2 linked regions of the Homo sapiens genome follow. The protein of the gene in region 1 purifies or fractionates together with the protein of each later gene. This does not show direct contact. Each region holds a gene or a part of one and is shown in the gene's direction. Other genes may lie near its edges.

Region 1 (3,500 bases):
GAAGGAAAAATATTCAGCAGAAGTTCATGCTGATAAAATTACACAATAGCACAGTGGACATGTCCCTGGGAGACCTGAAATACAAAAATTTCAACAGGCAGAAAGTGAGGTTTCACATATGGCAGCTTTTCTGATATAGCCACGTTGCCTCTTCCTAAATGAGCCCAGTTTTATGATTTCCCAGCAGGACCTGCAACACATATGAAATCCAGTCGAATAACGTCATTTAGGTTAATAACCAAATAGGAAAGTAATATTATAGAAGATCTCCTCTGAAAAGGATCTCATGTTTTAGTATAAAATATAAAGTCAGCATTAAAACATCTTTCTTACATTTGTTATTTGGGCAAATTTAGAAATATTTGACATAAAATCTTAACTATATCAACATCGAGTTATTATTTCACAAAATTTTCATATATGTTTTATTATGATATATATTGGATATTTTTTTCTCTAAGTGTTAAACAGAATGAATACATTTGGTCCCAATAATTTTTCATATCAATTAATAAGTGTAGTGTGGAATAGTAATCCTTTGTCTGTTTACCTAAGATTGAGCAAAATGTTGACAGAGACTTAAAGTATACTATGGTTTAATGTTTTCTTAGAAAAAGATGCATATGGGCAGGCATGCAAGTAAAGAGTTAAGTGCAAGCCAGTGACAAGTGTAAAGTATCATGCCCTTAGGTTCATGTTTTGAACCAAGCATGGTCTGACCAGCATGACCTTGAGACATAGTGTACAGACAGCCATGGCTTCTAGCCCTGCCTGTGTGATTCCTGGCAATCCTTAAACTTCGAAGAATCCCAGTCTCTAGGGTAATAATGAGGGGCATGAACTCAAAATTGCAATTATAAGGTTCTCCAGTTTTATAAATTTTCTTAGAAGGCCAACTCTGAAGAACCACATTCTTGGTGAAACAAGAGCGATGGCATGGGAGCCAATGGTCAGCCATGCTGAAAGCTGAAATCATAGGTTTTCCTCAGTTTTAGTTATTGTACCCTATTGATAAAAATATAGAGGTGCCCTAGGCCAGGCAAAAAAAAATCAGCCAAATATATTAGGACTTACCAATGATTGGACAGCTAATTATTCCCTAAAGATACTTTAAAGGGGGAGGGGAATGCCTTTTAGCTCAAGGTGGGTTTACACAGAAACTCTGCTCAGAACCAAGCTGGATTTCCATCACCATCTTTCTTAGTCCATGTGGGAAACATCTTTTTTTGCAACTCCTCTGGCTACGATTTCATCTTTTAGTGAACACATAGCAAGTGAGGGACTTTCTCTTCTGCTTCTACCAATCAAATCCATTAGAGGTTTATCTCATCTACAAAGCACCCCTGTATAGCCCTTGGTGTTTTCCATTTCTCATAGGATTCTTACATCACTGGCAGAGCCCTTTCTTCTCTCCTTGAAAAGCAGAGCTTGCACTAGCAGTGTTGCCATACACAGAATACCTGTGTATTACACAATAGCACAGTGGACATGTCCCTGGGAATAGAATACCTAACACTTGGGCCATCATATACAGACTGTGTTCTTGGCTATAAAGAATCATTGCTCAGGCATATTTTTGATTCATGCAAAATACTATATACACTTGCATGTTGAGTAACAAACTTACTGGAACATTCTACCTTCAGAAAGTCTTTGTATCTCTTTTCAAATGAAGTCAAGTTTAGTAATACTATATTATTCATATTAGCAGCACAATCATTTAGTTTTCTAGGGCAGTTTTACCATTTGTTTTCTTCTTTTTTAATAATATTTTGAATCTGAAATTCAACAACCAAAATTATGTTTTAGGATATCAGTTAAATTAAAAATGCTGGTCTCTGTTTGGGTTTTATGAATATTTTAGTATCTAATGAAATTCCTCATATTGGTTAAGTACCTTGAACATAAAAATTATAAAGTTTTAAGCTAAATTGTTTAGGTTTTCTACATGTCTCTATGTATGCAATGTAAACATATAGAACCAGTTCATTCAAATTATGCTGCATAACTGACCTATAATTTTAAAGTTAAAAAACATAGAAGAATAAAAGGTATATTCACTGCACTTTGTCTTGCACTTTGATTTCTTGCTACAATAATGATGTTGGTGTGGATAGCATATATGCATGTGTATATGCGTAAAGTTAGATTATACGTGTATAAAGTTCACATGTATCTACCCAGTAAGAAAGTTATGCAGGCCTCTTGAGTTTGTTCAAATCCTCTAGCTTGCTGCAATCATCTTGTCTTTAAAGATTTAGAAAAAAATTGCCCTGAAACTCCATTTTTCATGTTAGGAGAAATCTATCATTCCTTCCAATATCTCTGAGAATTCTTTGGTGTCAGGTTTATTTCTTCTAATCTCAGGCTCCAAGCTCCTGCCTCTGGTTCTCACTTCAGCCTTTGCCATTCCTTTTTTCGTAAGCTGTCTCTAGTTCTCACTATGGCTCCCACTCAGACACCACCACCACCTCTCATCCCTTCACTCCGTGCAGTACCACAAACTCAAGGATGTGTGTAGGTTTAAGTGAATGTTAGGGTCAATACTTGTAATTAACTTGTGCTTGCCCATCTGGGGAATTTTAAGAGACCATCTCTTCTAAGTCTCCAGCATCCGGCTACATCCTGTATCGCCCTTTGTCTTCTTTGATTTCTTGCACTTCCTAACACTCCAGTTTCATTTACAGTTTAACTTTGTATCATGCCTGTGTCCTTCTGGTCTTGCCCTGAGGTGTATGATTCTACAACCATGTGGCTTATCAAACCACGTGGTTTATCAAAATAATTTGCAGAAACAAAAGATGACTCACATAAGTGGAATTCTGTCTTTAAATATTGAGCTTTTTACTCCTCTCTGCCGAATTAGAGTTCTACAACTCAACTCTCTGTGCATAAAGTACCTGAATTTTTTTCACAACTAATAAAAAGATTAATGTGTACCTTCATCTAAACATAATATTGTTTTACATATATGATCCTGAAATACTTCAGAAAATTAACCTTCTCTAAAGATAGTGAGTATAATTATTAACATTTGTTCCTTATATTTAACTTCCTTCCAAAGACATTATATAATGCTAAATTGAAATTTTCAGAAAGATAAAATTATGGCTGTCATACAACTATAAAATCAATACAAGTAAAATATTTTATTTAAATGATTAACTAGTAAGGGAATCATTAAGATGTTAAAACTGGTTCAAAGGAGAATTTGAAGAGTGTGTGTGTGTGTGTGTGTGTGTGTGTGTGTGTGTATAAAATCCATCTATCATCTATACAGTGACATTTTAGTCAACAACAGATCGTATATGTCCCGGTGGTCCCATAAGATTATGATGCTACATTTTTACTGTACCTTTTCTATGTTTAGTTATGTTTTGACATACAAATACTTACCATTGTATTATAATTATCTACAGTCTTCAGCACAGTAACATGCTGTATGGGTTTATAACCTAAGAGCAATAGACTACACCATATAACCTTGGTATGTAGTAGGC
Region 2 (3,500 bases), on another chromosome or scaffold:
GTGAGCCAAGATTGTGCCACTGCACTCCAGCCTGGGCAACAAGGGTGAAAACTTTGTCTCAAAAAAAAGAAAACACAAAAATAAAATAATAAAGTAAAGATTGTTGACAAGAGATTTCTGTAGGGAAAAGCTTCTCCACATGGAATGAGAAGCAGCGCAGGGTTCTGAAGTGTAAGTAAACACTTATAGCTGCCGTCCCATTGCTAAGTGGCTCAGAGATGAACAGGTGGGCCTGTTTCTCAGAGTCTGGATTGGGTTTCTAATGGTTTTTAACACCATGGCCTCCCTTTTTGTTCTCAATTCAGGCGGACCCTATGGATCTTTAGGAGTAGATTATGAGTTCGAAAAACTTCTGTATAAAATATTTGGAGAGGATTTTATTGAACAATTCAAAATCAAACGCCCTGCAGCCTGGGTTGACTTAATGATTGCGTTTGAGTCTCGCAAAAGGGCGGCTGCCCCAGACAGAACTAACCCGCTGAACATCACCCTGCCCTTCTCCTTCATTGACTACTACAAGAAGTTCCGCGGGCACAGTGTGGAGCACGCCTTGCGGAAAAGCAAGTGAGTTGGGCTCATCACCTCGGGCTCTGGACATTCTAGCGGGTGGATCGTGCTGATGGGAGAGAGGAGCGAAGTGTGGACTTCGGGTTCCAATCCTACACACTTGCTGTATGACCTTGGGCAAGGGACTCAACTTCTCTTCCCTCAGTTTTTTTCACATGGAAAATGGGGATAATAATTCTATGTAACTCCAAGGGTTGTTGTGAGAATGCAATGAATTCATACATGTTGGGTGCTTAGAACAATGCCTGGGACCTGGCAAGTATTATCTATGTGTTTGCTAAAAACAGAGGAACTATGAAAGCAGCGAAGTTTAGTTTTGGCCCCTGCCATATCCCCAGTGTCTAGAAGAGAACCTGGTATGCAGTAGGTGCTCAATAAATATTTGTGGAATTAATCCAATGGGAATGTAGGTTTCTTGCCACTCTGAGTCCCTTGACTGATTTTGTGTCTCAGCTTGTTGCAAAATGAATATATTTAGAAGACGGTTTAAAGCCGAATTTAAAAAAAAAGATAAAAATAATAGATTTCTAATATTCTTAAACATTTTAAATTTATATATATAATATCCATCATGAAATGATGACTACAGACAGATTTACCTATCTATCATATTTCATAATTACCTTTTTCTAATAATCCTTTTGTAAGGGAACATGTCAAACATTTATCCTGTAAAATACCCCATTGTCCAGCTTCAACAACTGTCAGGTCCTGGCTAGTCTAAATCCAATTATTTTAAAGCAAATCTTAGAAATTAGCATCTCATCTATTTCAGTATGTACCTCTAAAGGAGACAAGTTTTAAATCACAACCACAATACCACGATAACACTTAACAATTAATAATTCCTCAATATTATCAAGTATCTAATTAACATTAACATTTTTCCATTTGTCTTTTTTTTTTTTTTTTTCACTTTGTACCAACATCCAAATGAGGGCTCTACATAGCAGCTATCTGATACGCCCCTCGAGTCCCACTAATGTACAGGTTCCCCTCCTGGTTTTTCCTTCACAATTTATTAGATGGCAAAACTAGTAGTTTGTCCTTAGATTGGAGTTTCCTATCATCTGGGCTTTGCTCATCTCACGTCCGTGGTGTTACACAGCAGGTTCTATCCCATAGCCTTTTTTTTTTTTTTTTTTTTTTTTGCAAGTTGGCAGATGGACTTAGAGGTTTAATCAGATTCAAGTTTGAATCTTTGGCATATCTGCCTTACGGGTGGTGGTTCCTCCTACTGCATCCCATCAGGGGACACGAAATGTCTGCCTGTCTCTCCTTTTGTGATATTAGCAGCCATTGATGATTATTGCCTGGTCCACTAATGCATTAGGGGTGGCTCCATGGCCACCATCTTGGTCCATCACTCCTTCCTCATTTATTTAGCTAGAATACTCCTAGAGAGAGAAACTTGGCTCCTCAGTGGTTTGGTTGCCCTGAACTACAGCTCACTTAGGGAAGACAGGATAAATAGGTTGGGTTTCAACCTCCATTTATGAGTTAAAAAAAAAAAAAGAATCAATTTCCTAGTATCCGCCAAAGTAGCTAATGAATTTTTCCTTTTGTGAGGGCATGAGGGGGAGTATCATTAGGAATTTGAGGATTTAAGCATATTTGATGTATTTTAAACAATGGCAATTCTATCCTTATTGACACCCACACTGTCCCATCTCGGCCAGTAGGAGCCTTCTCACGTTGGCTCTGAATCCCTTTGACATGACATTTGTGGTGGTTGACAGTGTCTTTGCCTCCTTGTATGTGAAGACACTCTTGGCTCATCTTGTACATTCCCTACCCCAGGCCTGGAATTGGCCATTTCCCTAAGAAGCCCTGGTTCCTTTTAGTGGAAGTGAAAGCAGATTTCATGTCAGGTCTTCTTGCCCTTGGAGCAGGGCCAGTCTGGACCCTCTTACTGGGCTGATGTTCTCTGCCCCGTTAGTCCCCCACAGAGGGCACCTGTCCTCTGTTTGGAATCCCAAGACCTACCTGCACAGTTCTGGGGCCTGTCAACCCTCCCACTAAGAAACAGGCTGCAGCCAGCCATGGGGTCATTCCATACCACACCACATTGTCCTTTGGCCTACGCCATGGAAAGGATTCCTTACCAACATGTTCTAGATTCCCGTCCAGCATCTAGAACATGTTCCTGGGAAGCTGCTGGTGTGCACTTTGCATCAGGGACAGAGGCGCCATTTGCTTGGCCTCTGAGAACAGGAGGGGCACGCCCTGTGGGTTTGGGGAATACACAGTCCCTGGCATTTGCTTAGTGCCAGAAAGTTTCCAGAGCGCTTTCACAGACATGGTATTTAACTTCGTCTTTACAACAACCCCCGTGAAGGAGGTAAGGCAAGCGCAGTTATCCCTGACTTCCAGACGTGGAGACTGGGCTTGAAGAAAATGGAGTCTAATCTGCCCAAAGTCCCAGAGCTCCGCAGTGGTGGTGGCCAGGCTAGAGCCCCACAATCCTGGATTCCCGTCCAGGACTCTCTGCTCCACACTGCTGCTTCTGGACAGAGACCGTGAGGGCCACCTAGTAGAATTAGGCTTACTCTGTCACCTGACAGGTGCCTGGAAGGCTGAGGACATGCACCTGAGCGCACACATGTGTAGCCGTAAGTAGCAGTACAATAAACTCGCCAGGGAGCTTTTAACGTGCTTGAATCCAAATATTGTTGGGTTCAAAGTGTGGTCCTGCGAAAGAGACAGTGAGCCCTTTATCTCCTTGTCTTTGCACTAGACTTTGGCCTCCACTATCCCAGGGGAAGGTCGGTCACAGCCAAACTTAAGATACAGAGAAGAGATTATGTCTTAGCTTTTGAGCTTCTAAGGGTCCAGGTCCTGGCAGTTTAGGGTTTCCAAAGGTGCTTTTGGCTTTCAACCCCCTTTCTGCCTGCTAAGAAGTGACAGATGTTCTGCCAGGGCAGGTGTCTATG

Evidence for each region.
Region 2: the proteins of MACROD2 (region 1) and HSPA12A purify together in Homo sapiens (affinity purification with mass spectrometry; one large-scale study listed by BioGRID and IntAct). This does not show direct contact.

The regions. Positions count from the first base shown.
Region 1 is NC_000020.11:15,990,016-15,993,515, forward strand, and holds part of MACROD2 (ADP-ribose glycohydrolase MACROD2), read left to right. Parts: intron 1-3,500. UniProt on the Homo sapiens protein: Removes ADP-ribose from aspartate and glutamate residues in proteins bearing a single ADP-ribose moiety. Inactive towards proteins bearing poly-ADP-ribose.
Region 2 is NC_000010.11:116,676,567-116,680,066, reverse strand, and holds part of HSPA12A (heat shock 70 kDa protein 12A), read left to right. Parts: intron 1-305; coding exon 306-564; intron 565-3,500. UniProt on the Homo sapiens protein: Adapter protein for SORL1, but not SORT1. Delays SORL1 internalization and affects SORL1 subcellular localization.